Linked DNA regions of Homo sapiens. The protein of the gene in region 1 interacts with the protein of each later gene in a pairwise test. Each region holds a gene or a part of one and is shown on either strand. Other genes may lie near its edges.

Evidence for each region. The genes of interacting proteins can lie anywhere in the genome.
Region 2: the proteins of KCTD21 (region 1) and RNF25 interact in binary tests that used the Homo sapiens proteins (3 or more experiments, as listed by UniProt).

What each region holds. Positions count from the first base shown.
Region 1 is NC_000011.10:78,176,761-78,186,177, reverse strand, and holds part of KCTD21 (BTB/POZ domain-containing protein KCTD21), read left to right. Parts: intron 1-8,192; exon of another isoform or gene 8,193-9,047; coding exon of another isoform or gene 9,048-9,126; intron 9,127-9,417. UniProt on the Homo sapiens protein: Probable substrate-specific adapter of a BCR (BTB-CUL3-RBX1) E3 ubiquitin-protein ligase complex mediating the ubiquitination and subsequent proteasomal degradation of target proteins. Promotes the ubiquitination of HDAC1.
Region 2 is NC_000002.12:218,663,392-218,670,210, forward strand, and holds the end of RNF25 (E3 ubiquitin-protein ligase RNF25), read right to left. Parts: intron 5,289-6,819; coding exon 5,214-5,288; intron 4,951-5,213; coding exon 4,848-4,950; intron 4,756-4,847; coding exon 4,688-4,755; intron 4,591-4,687; coding exon 4,521-4,590; intron 2,840-4,520; coding exon 2,768-2,839; intron 2,669-2,767; coding exon 2,525-2,668; intron 1,857-2,524; coding exon 1,764-1,856; intron 1,483-1,763; coding exon 1,348-1,482; intron 1,145-1,347; coding exon 566-1,144; 3' UTR 501-565; downstream 1-500. UniProt on the Homo sapiens protein: E3 ubiquitin-protein ligase that plays a key role in the RNF14-RNF25 translation quality control pathway, a pathway that takes place when a ribosome has stalled during translation, and which promotes ubiquitination and degradation of translation factors on stalled ribosomes.

The DNA of each region.
Region 1 (9,417 bases):
TCTCAAACTCCTGAACTCAAGCGATCCTCCCACCTGGGCCTTCCAAGTGCTGGGATTACAGGCATGAGCCACTGAGCCTGGCCTGTCTCCAGTTCTTTCTGCCCATCCTTGACATTTCTGAGGCCCAGGAGTGGCCTCTCTTTGTCAACATTCACAGTGAGTCATGACAGGAGTTTCTTTCCTGCCGAGTTACAGAGATTCTGGGTTCATGATGAGGCAGGAAAAACAAGGCCTGAACAGCCATCTTCTTCCAGGCAGAATCACAGCACAGAAGATAGGCAGACCTGGCCGGGCGCGGTGGCTCACGCCTGTAATCCCAGCACTTTGGGAGGCTGAGGTGGGTGGATCATTTGAGGTCAGGAGCTTGAGACCAGCCTGGCCAACGTGGTGAAACCCCGTCTCTACTAAAAATACAAAAATTAGCCGGGCATGGTGGCACGCACCTGAAATCCCAGCTACTCAGGAGGCTGAGGCAGGAGAATCACTTGAACCTGGGAGGCAGAGGTCGCAGTGAGCCAGGATCACGCCACTGCACTCCAAACTGGGTGACAGAGCGAGACTCTATCTCAAAAAAAAAAAATAGGCCTAGTGGTGTGGTTTCTGTGGGTGGTGGCTCTATCCAGACTGCCCACCCAGGCTTAGATTCTAACTCCTCCACCACTTAGCCCTGGTTGGCATCCTCACCCTTCAAAATTCAGAAACACTTGGGAAGGAAAATTATGAGCTTTTCACACTTCTAAGTAGTAGTAGTAAATCTGTAACTTACTAAATCTGGCGACTTATTGGGGTCTGGCACAATGACTGTAACTTTACATCTATTGGCCCTATGAAGAAGTGTTCTTCCCCCCTCTTTTAAAATACAAATATTTTTAAAATTTTCAAGCTTACATAAAAGCTTAAAGTACAACCCTTAACCTAGATACGCCAAATCACAATTTGCCAATTGTGCTTTTACACAAACACACACTTTTTTGGCCCAATTATTTAAAAGTAAGTTACAGATATGTTGATTGACGTTTGACCCCTAAATTCTTCAACATGTATCCCCTAATAAGGGCGTTCTACTACATAGCCATAATACATTATATGTAATAAGCAAGAAGTCAGTATTACCCAATGTAATAGTTATTCAAAATTTTCTGCCAGGTGCAATGGGTCATGTCTATAACCCCAGCACTTTGGGAAGCAAAGGCAGACAGATTGCTTGAGCCCAGGAGTTCAAGGCCAGCCTGGGCAACATAGTGAAACCCCATCTCTACAAAAACTACAAAATTTAGCATGGTGTGGTAGCGTGCACCTGTAGTCCCAGCTACTTGGGAAAATCACCTGAGCCTGGGGATGTCAAGGCTGCAGTGAACCATGATCGCGCCACTGCACTCCAGCCTGGGCGACAGAGTGAGACCCTGTCTCAAGAAAAAAAAAATTCTAATTGCCCAAAAATACCTTATATAGTTTCTGGTTTTTAAAATCAGATCCAGTCAAGATGTACATATTGCATCCTATTATATCTCTTTTATCAACTCATTTAATCTAAATAGAGCCCCTTGGCATGGTAGCTCATGTCTGTAATCCCAACATTTTGGGAGGCTGAGGTGGGCAGATCACTTGAGGTCAGGAGTTCGAGACCAGCCTGGCCAACATGGTGATACCCCATCTCAAGTAAAAATACAAAAATTAGCCGGACATGGTGGTGTGTGCCTATACTCCCAGCTACTCAGGAGGCTGAGGCAAGAGAATTGCTTGAACTCAGGAGGTGGAGGTTGCAGTGAGCCGAGATTGTGCCACTGCACTCCAGCCTGGGCAACAGAGTGTGACTCTATCTCAAATAAATAAATAAATAAATAAATAGAGCTTCTCCACCTATTTAAATATGTTTGATTGGTTTATCAATGATTAGATTGGGGTTAGATTTAAGTTTTTGGCAATGTGTGTACTTACTGCATGTCAGGAGGATATGATGTCAGGGTCTTACTATCCATGAATGCTAAATTTGATTATTAAGGTCATGGCAACCTGATCTCTCTATCGTAAAGGTAAATTTTTCTCTCTTACAATTAATAAGTAATCTGTGAAGTGATTCTCTGAGTCTGTTATAATTATGTGTTCCTGATAACCTTTCACACCACATCCTTGGATGATCCTTGCTTGAATTACAACACTGAGGGTTGCAAATTGGTAATTTTCTAATTCTGCCATTCCTTCTGTGTTTATTAGTGTTCTTTTTTATAGAATTAATTTTTCCTGGCCGGGTGCGGTGGCTCACGCCTGTAATCCCAGCACTTTGGGAGGCCGAGGCGGGCGGATCACGAGGTCAGGAGATCGAGACCATCCTGGCTAACAAGGTGAAACCCTGTCTCCACTAAAAATACAAAAAATTAGCCGAGCGAGGTGGCGGGCGCCTGTAGTCTCAGCTACTCGGGAGGCTGAGGCAGGAGAATGGCGTGAACCCTGGGAGGCGGAGGTTGCAGTGAGCCGAAATCACACCACTGCACTCCAGCCTGGGCGACAGTGAGACTCCGTCTCAAAAAAAAAAAAAAAGAATTAATTTTTCCTGTCTCTATCTTTCTCACTCCCTTCTTCTCACCCTCTTTTTTCTTTTGGGAATAACATTATGGACTCTTGTTTTTTGTTTGTTTGTTTTTGAGATGGAGTCTCACTCTGTTGCCCTGGCTGGTGTGCAGTGGCACGATCTTGGCTCACTGCAACCTCCACTTCCCAGATTCAAGCGATTCTCCTGCCTCAGCCTCCCAAGTAGCTGGAATAACAGGCGCACGCCACCCCGCCCAGCTATTTTTTGTATTTTTAGTAGAGATGGGGTTTTGCCATGTTAGCCAGGCTGGTCTTGAACTCCAGACCTCAGGTGATCCGCCCGCCTCGGCCTCCCAAAGTGCTGAGATTACAGGCATGAACTACCGCACCCAGCCTGGACTCTTGTTTTGTTGTTGTTGTTTTTTAATTCACTGGGCTATATGAACTCACCTTGAACTTTTCCTGTGAAAGTCCAGGAATCATCAGTTTCTCCAGGAAGCCCTGGTTTCTTTTAGAAGAGATGATGACATTCAGAAACAAAGATCCAGGGCTAGGTGTGTTTATTGCTACTGGGTGTCATTTCTAGGCTCTGTGAGTGAGCAGAGCTAGGAAATGATGGATAGGTGATTGATAGATAGATGATAGATGGACAATTTTCATTACTCAGTACATTTATTGTTACAACAGCTAGTCCCCACTGACAGGATTGCATGGTAAGTCATTTCATTATGGAAGTAATGCTCATTATGGAAGTGGACAGTAATGTAGGAAAAAAGGAAATTGCACAGAAAAGAGCTCTTGCCTACTCCAGGTCGCCATGAGTATACAGACTGTTGGCTAGGACCTCTGTGGCTGGGTTCAGCTTCCTGCCGAAGACGTCTAAAGGACTGGTTCTCTGAAGGGTGTCCAAACCAGAACTTCCCAGAGGCCATGACTCTGAGGTCAAGAATCCACATGAAGCCCTGGGCAAGGGATTCACGCTCTTTGGGTCTGCTTTAGGTTGTCTTTGAAACAAAGACAATGTAATCGGTCCTGCCTGGGTCCCAGAGTTGTAAGGATCAATATATTTATCAATATGTTTATTTTTAAACATTGCTAGTTGTGTCTCTTCACATTTATTACCAAATTCCTTCTCTTCTCATTGTTTTAAAACCACAGAGGGAAATGTCATTGCTTTATAATCTAGTTTAATACATTGCGCTAAGATGTCTTATTCAAATACTCTTTCAGGTTATCAGTCATCAGTGCTTCCAGATTAAAATTTTAATTATTTAAATCTTTTTTGAAAAATACTATTGGGATTTGGATTAGGATAGCATAACAACTATAATTAATTTTGAGGGGGGGGGGGTGCTTTGGGATAAGGCCTGGCTCTGTCACCCAAACCAGAGTGCAGTGGCACAGTCTTGGCTCACTGCAACCTCCACCTACTGGGACAAAACCAATTATTAAAATAGAAGAAGTTCCTATAGCTATTATCACTTGGGAAATTACACAGTTTTTAGCCCTGGCCAACAGCTGGGGACAAATCTAAAATGTATATTGCTTATTATATCACAGTATCACACAACCCCTCCCCTGAGTGCAAGGCGGTGACTATGCAGACGTGAGACATGCAGTTGCTCTCAGCTCACAAACTAGGCAGTGGTTTCCAAAAAAAATTGTTTTGTCAGCCACAGTATGAAGATACCATGATCCAGTTCATAGACACACAACTGAAACAAAAGTTTCACAACAATATATAATTGGTTACAACCCACTTAACTGTATTGATGTCATGACTTGCCAATAGGTCACAACCTTCATTTTTTTTCCTGTTTATGGAGGTAAAACTTAAGTATGGTAAAATTTACACTTTTTTTTTAATTGAGACAGGGGTCTTACTATGTTTTCCAGGCTGGTCTTGAACTCCTGGGCTCAAGTGACCCTCCTGCCTCGGCCTCTCAAAGTACTGGGATTATAGGCATGAACCACCACAGCTGGCCACAATTCACCCTTTTAGATGTGTATGGTTACATGAATTTTGACAGTCTTTATAAACACATTTGACCACCACCACATCATATTACTTTTGTGCCAACCTAATAGAATATTCCCATCACTCCAAAATATGCCTTGTGTTTCTTTGTAACCAGTCTTTTCCCTCCAACCCAGCCCCAAGAATTCACTTAATCTGATTTCTGTCTTTATAGTTTTGCCTTTGCCAGAACGTTATACAGATAGAGTCATGTACCATGTAACCTTCTGAGGCTGGCTTCTTTCACTTGACGTAATGCTTTTGAAATTCATGTATGTGGTAATGTCTTTTAGTAGTTCCTATATATTGCTGAGTCATATTCTATTGTATGGATGTACTGCAATTTATCTGTTTACAATTAGTTGTTTCTGAGTTTGGGCAATTATGAATAAGCTGCCATAAACATTCACATATGAGTCTTTGCATGGACATATGTCTCCATTTCTCCGGCATAAATACCTAGGAGTAGGGTCATTGGGTCACGTGATAATTGTATGCTGTATTAGTCCATTCTCACACTGCTAATAACAACATACCCCAGACTGGCTAATTTACAAAGGAAAGAGGTTTAATTGACTCACGGTTCCACAGGACTAGGGAGGCCTCAGGAAACTTAAAATAATGGTGGAAGGGGAAGCAAACATGTCTTTCTTCACATGGCAGCAGCAAGGAGAAGTGCCAAGCGAAGGGGGAAACCCCTTATAAAACCATCAGATCTCTTAAGAACTCACTATCACAAGAACAGCATGAGGAAAACCGCCCCAATGATTCAATCATCTCCACCTAGTCCTGCCCTTGACACATGGGGATTATTACAATTCAAGGTGAGATTTGGGTGGGGACACAGAGCCAAACCATACCATATGTCAAACTATTTTCAACAGCGGTTACCATTTGTCAGCAGTGTATGAGGTTTCCATTGTTCTATGTACTCACCTTCAATTGGCATTGTCAGTTTTTATATGAGCCACTAATAGGTATATAGTAGCATATAATTGTGGTTTCAATTTTCATACTCTCATGACTGATGATATTGACCATCTTTTCATGTGATTGTCAGTCATCTGCATATCTTCTTTGCTGGAGTATTTGTTAGATCTTTTGTCTAGTTGTTTTGTTTTTGTTTTTGTTTAAGTAGAGATAGGGTTTCACCATGTCGGCCAGGCTGTTCTTGAACTCCTGGCCTCAAGTGATCTGCCCGCCTCAGCCTCCCAAAGTGCTGGGATTACAGGCATGTGCCACTGCACCCAGCTTTATGTGTTTTTTAATTGGGTTATTTTCTTACTGAGTTTTGAGAGTTCTTTATATATTCTGGTTAACAATCCTTTATCAGATAGGTGTTTTGCAAATATTTTCTCCATCTGTGTCTTATTCTTTCATTTTCTTAACAGTGTCTTTTGAAGAGCAGAAGTTTTTTACGTGGATGAAGTCTAGTTTATTGATGTTTTTAATGGTTTGTCCCTTTTAGGTCCTATCCAAGAAATCTTTGCCTAATCCACAGTTGCAAAGATTTTCTCCTAGAAGTTGTGTAGTTTTAGATTTTATATTTAGGTCTATGATATGTTCTGAGTTTATTTTTCATAAACAGCATAAGAGATGGACCAAGGTTCTTTTTTTCCCCATATGGATGTCCACTGATCTGCATTTTGAGATAGCCAGGGAAGAGGGCCATGTGCAAAGGAGATCGCTGCAGGTGGAATGCTGGGTGCTGCCAGAGGGGGTTGTGCAAGGCACCAGGAAGCCCTGAGAGGAGAGCTGTTAACCTAGTGGAGATCTGGGGACAGTAGTACAGAGGTGATGACTCATAGGCTGGGCCTGAAAGGTAGACAGCAGAGAGGGTAGAGAAGGTAGACAGGGGTGGTCTAGGGACAGCAAAGGCAGGGCAGGTGTCAGCATGAAGGAGACTGACTCAGTGGCGTCTGGCGTGCGTGGAGGGCAGGGTTAGACATGAGAGGGAAAGAGGAAGGTGGTTGGGCAGGGACGGTACTTCAGGAAGGTCAGTCTGCAGACCAGAAAGGAAGGTGGACAGAAGGCAGGGAGCCGAGTGAGGATGTAGGGGTGCAGGGGGCAGGGATGAGGCCTGAGCTCTGGGAGTAGCTATAGGGATGGGTTCAAGGAGATAGTCAAGACAAACTGTAGGGCTGAAGAGTCGGGGCTGCTTCCCTCAGGCAGTTGGGTGGCTCAGAAGAGTTCACAGCAGAGTTAGGGGCAGAGGAAGGCACAGGTGAGGCTTCTGGTACCTGTGTTACTGGTGGAGGGTCTTGACTAGGAATTTTCCAGGTCCTTGGCGTTTTGAACAAAGTAGCAGAGGGGCAGACGTGGTAATCCCCACACTTTGGGAGGCCTGGATGGGCAGATCACTTGAGGTCAGTCCAAGACCGGCCTGGCCAACGTGGTGAAACCCGTCTCTACTAAAAAAAAAAAAAGTAAAAATAAAAAGAGTAGCAGGGGAATGAAATGCAGGAATGAAGCAGTGAAAGCAGGAATTAAAGTGAGAAAGCACTCCTCAGGGTGGGAGTGGGCCGGAGCAAGGAACTCAAAGGCCCAGTTACAAAGTTCTCTGGGCTTTAGGTACCCCATTTGAGGTTCTTATCAGCTACTCCTTATCTGGACGAAGGATTTAGTCTGTGGCTAATTAAAGGCTGAGGTGAATGGGCACCCTATGCAGATAAAGGGATGGTCCCAATCCAAGGCCCCCCTCCCTTTCCACCTGAGACATGGTGGAGTGGGAGGGTTGCAAAGAGGAGCGTTTGATCCTTTGTCACCCAGCTGGGGCGATGGCGTTTTTCCTCTTGGTTCAGCTTTAGGAATTTGGTGTTAATTGGTCTTAGGGTCCCTGCCCCCAGACCCAGGATTTTCCTTCTGATCCAGCTTTGGGAAGTCAACAGAATTGGCCTCAGATTTTTTGCCCCAGACCTTGGTGTTTTCTCTTTTATGAAGTTAGCACAAATTGGCCTTAAGTTCCTTGTCTCCAAACCTTGTTCTCCTGCCTCACTTGCAGAATATCCAAGTGGAGGTGGCCAGGAGGCATCTGGGAACACATAGGGGACTGAGGCTCAGTGGTGTTAGTTCATTACTACCTGACTGCAAACCTCCGCCGACTCATGAAACTCCCCTCGTGTCATGTCATTTTGCCTTTTGTAGCAGGGCCGTGGATTTGTGATGATGGACACTGTGGCCCTGTGGCTAGAAAATAGGGGCTTAGACCAGGCACGGTGGCTCACGCCTGTAATCCCAGCACTTTGGGAGGCCGAGGCGGGCAGATCACAAAGTCAAGAGATCGAGACCATCCTGGCCAACATGGTGAAATCCCATCTCTACTAAAAATACAAAAATAAATTAGCCGGGCCTGGTGGCGTGCACCTGTAATTGCAGCTACCCGGGAGGCTGAGGCAGGAGTGTCGCTTGAATCTGGGAGGCAGAGGTTGCAGTGAGCTGAGATTGCGTCACTGCACTCTAGCCTGGCGACAGAGCGAGACTCCATCTCAAAAAAAAAAAAAGAAAAGAAGGGCTTAGAGGACTGAGCTCTGTGACTGGATAGGTAAGGGGAGATCACCACAGAGAGCACCCTAGACTCGGAGCAGGAGACCTGCCTGCTAGCCAGCCTCTGCCCTGACTGCCTGTGCAACTGTGCTGCTCTCCCCAGACAAATGACCGGGAGCCATGACGTCATCGGGGGCGCAGGAAAGCAGGTGCTCTGCTGCTTTTGCAAGCAGAGAAATAAGAGTTTGGGCACCTACCCAGGGGTCCCAGGGAATGCCCTGTGGCTCCTGACCTCCCCCGCCTGTAATGCTCTGAGCACTTCAGCAGTAATGCATGGAAGAGATAAGGGTCTGTGACCCATGGAACTGTCCAAGTCCTCTCTGACACCCGCTTCTTTTCCTGCCGTGAAGGTAAGCCACTTTATAGATCCTAGGCCTGAAACCCAATGTTGGGAGGGAGTGTTTGTTTTCAAGAAGAAAGAGAGACTGAAACTAGAACATGCACATTTCTATCCAGAAGAAAACAGTTGGAGTAGACTAGAGTCCTACAAAGAGGGCAACAGGGAAGAAGATTCTGGACTGAGTAAAGGGGACCCACTCCTGGGTCCACCTCCTGCCTGGGCCCTCTGGAGAGAGAATTGGCCAGATTCAGCCCTGAGTCACAGCACCCTCCCCAGTTGCTGCCTCACAGCCATCTCCACACCAGCAGCCATGCCCCCAGCGGCAGCTCGCCCACACCTCTGTGGGACCTCCCCACCGTCTCGCAGCCCATCTGCTCCAGGCTTCTACTGACGATTTCGTATTTCACATGGACTCATTTCTCCTCAGACACTCCAGATGGGGAATGCCTTTCTGCAATATCAAAGTGCCCCATTAGACTGGGGAGGAATCATGAGGGGACATACCCCTGCCCCTGCCACAGAGTCGAGCATGGCAGCTGAATATCTCTCACACTGGCATGGCCCCCATCCTCTGGAGAAAGGAGGCCTCAGTGCAGTCAGCCTCTTCAGGAGGCAGAAATGTTGAGAAGTTCTCGCCACCCCTGCTGGGTGACTTTGGGGAGGTGTCTCCTCAGACCTCTGTTTCTCCATCTGGACGGTAAGCATGCTTGAAAGGTTGGGTTTTTGTTTGTTTTTTGAGACCGGATCTCCCTCTGTCTGCCAGGCTGGAGTTCTGTGGCGTAATCACGGCTCACTGCAGCCTCAACCTCCCAGACTCAAGCGATCCTCCCACCTCAGCCTCCCAAGTAGTTGGGACTACAGGTGCTCGCCACCACACCCTGCTTTGTTGTTGTTGTTGTTGTTGTTGTTGTTGTTGTTGTAGAGACAGGATTTCGTCATGTTGGCCAGGCTGGCCTTGAACTCCTGAGCTCAAACGATCTGCCCACCT
Region 2 (6,819 bases), on another chromosome or scaffold:
CTGGGCTCAGCTCAGCTCTCCTCCTCTAGCTCAATAAACATCTGCCACACTACTCTGCTCTCTCATCTCCCTTCATCACTGGATTGGTACTTGAGTAAGACGGGCTGCAATCACAGGTGCCTACAGGGGTCAGTCAGGCAACCACATATACAAATGATGGGGCATAGCCTAAGATAAAGAGATGAGACACAAAACAGGAAACTAAATTCCTCTACCTAAAGGCATTCTATGTATATAAATAATGGACAGGCATGGGTGTGTACACAATGAGTTGTTAACGGTGGGTCCTAAGGACTCTGCTTACATGCTGACATCCCACTAGTTTTCCCTGAAACTCACTATACTAGCTGATGAGATGTCAGACCCTCTTTACCCAGCTCTTCGGAGAACAGACTTCAGAGCAAAGTTGGGGGCTGCTCTGCCACACCCCAATCTTATTAGGAATTGAGAAAAAGAGCCATTCCTCACAGGCTAGGCGCTGCTAAGCAAAGAAAGCCAAAGAAGGCCAAATATCTTTATTGCCTCCCTCCCATCCCCAATTCCCTGTTCCCCCCACCAAGTCCTGCTAGGAACCATCCTTAGATTCCAGGCCCAGGGACTCCCTCCGAGTACCAGGCCGGTATGCTCCCTGGCCCCGAGGCAGGCGAGGGTAGGAAGAACCGGGTGTCCGGCCTTTAGAGCGCTCCCAGCGAACACAGTCCCGAGTCCTGCGGGGTGGGGGCCCCTGCCAGCTGCCAGGCCCCTTCTCTTGTGGAGGACCTTCAACTCCTTGGCTATGGGGTTCTGGCTTTAGGTCCATGGGCTCCTTGAGGGGCCCCTCAGGAGGTGGCAGTTCCTGGGTGTCACGGGTACCTTTAGGGGCGTGGCACTCCCCTCCCTTTGGGTGCCTCCGTTCGGGCTGTCGCCAGGGACCTCGACTGGGCTTGGGGGGATCTAGCATAGCTTTCTGGGTTTCGCCCAACCTTTGCTGATTTGACCTGGTCCCTGGAATCTTCTCACATATGTGCTGGGTCGCCACAGGCAGAGGAGGTGGCAAAGTGGATTGGACGGCTGGTGAGGTGGATAGTTCTGCTGCAAGGGTGCTGGGTGGTTGGGATCCTTTGGAGACATCTACAGCTGACTCAGGTTCCGCAGGGGCAGGAGGCTAGAAATAAGTGACAAGATGCAGTGAGGGAGATGCAGTTCCTCAAGGTGGGGAACTACAGGCCCCTCTCCTACTATCTGGGCTGACCACGATCAGCCTATCATCTTCCTGGTTAGAACAAAGCTCACTCTGGGGCCATGGCTGATTGGGGTTTGTAGAAAGGTTGGTGGCATTACAGGACAACTGGGAAGCCCTTCCCTCACCTGCTGAAGGCTGATGAAGTATCGGTTTCGCTCAGCCTCAAGGTCAATGATTCCCCCCCGCTCCTGCTGCCTCTGGTAGAGCCGCTTGCGTTCTTCTTGCTGGCGCAAGCTCTCTGCACTGGGCTGGTACAGCTCCTGGAAGGAAGAATGGCAGAGAGGAAATAATGAACAGCAGAAGGCTGACTCAAACCTCTACTCCTCCCAGGCTGCCTCAGGAGATCTGCACTGGTTTTGCCCCTCAGGTCTGGGCTCCCAGAGTCTTAGGCTCCCGCCAGTGGGGGATGTGGCTTTGCAGAGAGGTCCTAGGCAGTTCAAGCCCAATTTCAGAGATCCCATTTGACACAGACAAGATGCCATTCCTTACTCTTTAGAAAATACCATTACTCCTGGCTCAGATTGGAAAAAAGTCTCCTTACCATGGGCTGTTGGGGTTCAGGGGCTGCTTTCAGTGAGGCAAGATCATACACGAGGGGCTCTCTGCACACTGGACACTGCACACCGACTGCCTTCTAAAAAAGAGAAAAATCATATGCCTGTGTCACAGCCCAGGATGCCCCCTGGTGCTGACCCATCAGCCAACCTAATCTGCAGAGGGCTGGGACTAAAGGGCACAGGGACACCGGTTCAGCAGTGAGTTGGGACAGAGCACGGGTTGTCTAACTAGAGATCTGGGAACCCCCCGAAACTGCATGCAATATGTAAGTGTATATAAGGATGCCCTGGCCAGGCACGGTGGCTCGCGCCTGTAATCCCAGCACTTTGGGAGGCCGAGGCGGGCGGGATCACTTGAGGTCATGAGTTTGAGACCAGCCTGGCCAACATGGTGAAACCCCGTCTCTACTGAAAATACAAAAATCAGCTGGGCGTGGTGGCTCGCACCTATAATCCCAGCTACTCGGGAGGCTGAGGCAGAAGGATTGCTTGAACCCAGGAGGCGGAGGTTGCAGTGAGCCAAGATTGTGCTACTGCACTCCAGCCTGGGTGGCAGAGTGAGACTCCATCTCAAAAAAAAAAAAAAAGGATGCCCTTTATTCTGGACAGAGGTAAGAGTTCATTAATCTCAAGGGTATCTATGACCCTGAAAAAGTGAAGAGCCACTGGAGTGGAGAGATGGAAAAGTTTGTGAAAGGCTGTGCCTAAGGGTGTCAGATGAGTGTGCAGGTGCAGTGAGGTCTACCTGTTTGGTTGTAGCATGCTGCCGTTCCTGTTCCTGCTCCTGTCCTTGTGCCTTCAGCTCTTGCTCCATGTGCTGGATGTACCGAGCAAGGCAGTGGCAGTGGAAGTAGTGGTAACAGGGTGTTTTGGTAAAGGCCTCCTTCTCCTAGAGGGAAGGCAGATGTAGGGCACTAAGTCAGAGCTCTCTCACAGCCCTCATCTGCTGGTCCCAAACAGAATGCCAGGTCCCAAGAGAGAAACCCACCTGGAAACCATAGAGGCAGATGACACACTGGCCATGAGGGATGTTGTTATCTGTGAGAATTTCCTTCCCTTTCTGAGGAGAGAAGACACTGATTAAACGGGGGTAGGGGGAAGAACGGTGAGCAAGGCCTGTCTACTACTCCTAGGAGTGACTGGCTAGACTTGGCTCCTAGCAGGCCAGTTTGTTACCTTGTGTTTATGCATTTCTGGCTTGGTGACGCTCCCTCTGCTGGGAATCAATCCTTCTCCACATCTCTGCCCCTCCCCCAAAATTTGATCTTCCTGGTTTCAAAATTCAACCTAATTGTTTTTCCTTTCATTAAGTCACTTTTAATATATCTTGGAGATGAAAATAATACACCTTGAGAAAAAAAATGTTCAATTAAAATTTATCTTCTGGGAGGCCTTTCTTGATTAGCCCCCTTCAATATCACTCCCCCATGGGGCAATGTGTTTGTTCTAAGTCAGCTTTCAGAAAGCATGACAAGGCATGGACAACCCAAATGGACAGAGAATTCACAAGGCATTGAGTTGGGCTGTGAACTATGCATTTGAATTGTTATTTGAATAGCTAATAGTGTACTCTGGAATTCCACAAAGTCCAAGGCTGCATTGTGGAGGCCTGACCTAGGACTGCTACGGTGGCCTATCAAACCCACTCTCTTTGACTCTCAGCCACCCACCTTCATTCTATTCTGAACATTTTTCTTAAAAATTTAAACTAAGAGAGGCTGGGCGTGGTGGCTCATGCCTATAATCCCAGCACTTTGGGAGGCTGAGGCAGGTGGATAACCTGAGGTCAGGAGTTCAAGACCAGCCTGGCCAACATGGAGAAACCCCATCTCTACTAAAAATATAAAATTAGCTGGGTGTGGTGGCACATGCCTGTGATCCTAGCTATCTGGGAGGCTGAGGCAGGAGAATCACTTGAACCTGGGAGGCGGAGGTTGCAGTGAGCTGAGATCACACCACTGCACTCCAGCCTGGGTGACAGACTAAGACTGTCTCAAAAAAAAAAAAAAAATTAAAATTAATAAATAAACAAACTAGGGGAAAATAAAACTGTACTTAATTTTATATTTTTAATCTCAAACAATAAAAGTTTTCTGTGTATATTGGAGCTTCAGGTGTTGCTTCATGTGGGTTGTTTCATCAAGCAGTGTATAAGCTCTTTCAGTAAAGGAACCATGACTTTTTCTTTTTTTTTTTTTTGAGATGGAGTCTCACTCTGTTGCCCAGGCTGGAGTGCAGTGCATGATCTTGGCTCCCTGCAATCTCCGCCTCCCGGGTTCAAGCGATTCTCCTTCCTCAGCCTCCCAAGTAACTGGGATTACAAATGCCCGCCACCGTGCCTGGCCAACCATGACTTTTTCTAGTCAGGTCCAATGGCAGTCTAGCCTTCAAATGTTCATTTATGGCTAAGACGCCCCCAAGCAAGATGCGTATCTTTTGCCACTTTCAGTTGCCAGTGCCAAGAGAACAAGACATATACTGAAACTGATGCAAGAAAAATTCAAGGTGAAGAGGAAAAGTCATTTTCTGTCAAGATGCTGGCATAGGCAACTTGGAGAAGCTACTGAACTGTCTTTTGGGAAGTTTTTCAAATAGAAGAGTCTCATTTCTCTGGATTAATTTAGGCCTTACCTAATGACTCCAGATCCGTTTAAGATTCTAGGCCCATGGTTTCCCTTTTACAGCTAGAAACTGCTCTAGCTTGAAGGAAAGAACATATCTCAGACTAGCGCACCTCTTACCTCAATGAGTTCATACAGCATGGCAGTGCCCAGCCCAGCCTTGGCCACGTGGCCCAGCACCTGTAAGATCCTGGAGGAAGAGGGCAAACCAAATATTAGACCTGCCCATTTCTGTCACCGGGCAAAGCTGTAGCTGAGTTTTCCCTGTTCTGACAGGTTCAACTTACGTGTGGATCTGTTCATCTGAAAGTCCTCGGGGATTTCGGATAGAGATCTGTGGCACCTCATGGGGATACTAGTGGGGGCAAATAACAAGTTACTGCTGAAGCGGTCCACCCCAGGGACTCTCCCCTTCCTCCCTTTGCTGCCACACAGTAGGGGCTTCACCTCTGCTGGGACCTGAAGCACCAGAGTGAAGCAGACATACTGTGAATCCTGGTCCTCTGCAGTGGCAGGATGCAAAGTGATGTAGATCTCCCATGGTGAAGTTCTGCAGGTGGATCAAGTGGACACGCAGATGTGACTGGGTAGGGGCTTGGGGGCTGGGGAGGATGGGGCTGAGACAGTGAAGTGGGCAAAGGAAGTACACATTGGACTCTTTCTTTTGGGGTAGGATTAAAGGAATAGCTTTTGTCTACACAAGAGAAATATTATCTCTGAATCAAGGCTCACAATGTCTTAAGACCCAAATTCAGCATAGAACCTCTCCTCATTACTAGGGGGACTCCTGCCCACCACTGGTTGAATACATACCTGCCATTTCCTTTAATCACCTGTAGTTCATCTAGATAGATGGACTCCAATACTTCAACTTCAGAGGGAAGGACCCTAGAGAGACAGGAGTAGACTAACTTACCATTACAGCTCTCCCTGTGGAAGCCTGCTAAGGCCAATAAAGGCAGGCTTTGTAGAAAAATGGCAATCTACCAGAATGCATTCTCCTGCTAAACTCCTTAAAAACAAGGAATATGTTACCTTAAGTTGTCAACTGGCCAAATAGAAGGCATGGAAATCAGAATTTTAGGCATCATTTCTGCCAACAGATGAAGAAGTGGATTCTAGAGAAGTAAAATGACTAACCAAGGCTTAACATAGGTAGAACTAGGCCCAGAGCCAGGTTTCCTGACTCCCTGTTTAAGTTTCATTCCCCTTAGTGGCTGAATCTCTGGTCTAGAGATATGGCACTCATTCATTAGCATTAACGTTACCAATATTACTCCAACCTTTCCCTACGTCACTGTCCAGTGTGGATCCCAGTGCCTTGGCTACTGTCTACATACAGTTTTAACACCAGTCACCCTAAGCCTTCTTAAAGGAGATAGCAACCTCAACACAACATATTTAGGGTGGTATAAAGGCTGTGTTGTAATGGAAGAGCCAGCAGCCTCGGAGTTAGTTAACAGGTACCAATCACTTACAAGCTATGCAATCTGGGACGTGACCTCTCTGTAAGCTTAAGTTATCCTGTCTGTCACATATAGATAATAACACCTACTCTCTAGGGTTATTGTGAGGATAAAAGGTGATTTGTTTACATAAAGTACCTAATAGTATCTGGGCTATCGTAGCTAGTCTACGTCCTCTTTTTTTCCTGTCTGTATATAACCTTCTCCCTTAGAAGGAAAGAGGGAAGGAAGGAGGTAATAGAGTACTCTGGATGTATTTATGACCTGGCTGTCTGGTTGATCTAGATCAGCCTGTTGAGGTTAGGATCCATGGTTCTGATGTAAATCAAGGGACACACATACTTAAGCATAGAAACAGCAGTTGTAATGAAATTGAAGCTGAGTGATCAGTTTGTGTCTACAGCTCTACCAAGTGATACATGGAAAAATGCACACTTTGCTTTCTCACACTGCTCCCTCTTCATTCTAAGAGTAAGGCTGCCCCAGCACGACCTATGTCAGTGTTGTTAAGTCTTAGGCAGAAACTTCAAAATATAAAATATAAAGCTTCACACCTCACAGATAACAGTGTAGTTCTGGCTGACATGGGAGTGGGAGTCTCACAGTACTACAGGCTGCTGCACTCATTGTTGCTGTCTCCATGGCTCAAGGTGTCTCCCCTGAATCTTAAAAGTTCCCCTGAACAGGTAAACTGTAAGTTATCCCAGCGCTTTGGGAGGCTGAGGTGGGAGGATCACTTGAGGCCAGGAGTTCGAGACCAGCCTGGGCAACAAAGCGAGACACTATCTCTACAAAAAATAAAAAATTAACTGGACACGGTGGTCCCAGCTACTTGGGAGACTGAGGCAGAAGAATCACGGGAGCCCAGGAGGTCGAGGCTGTAGTGAGCCATGATCTTGCCACTGTACTCCAGCCTGGGTGACAAAGTAAGACTCTGTCTCTTAAAAAAAAAA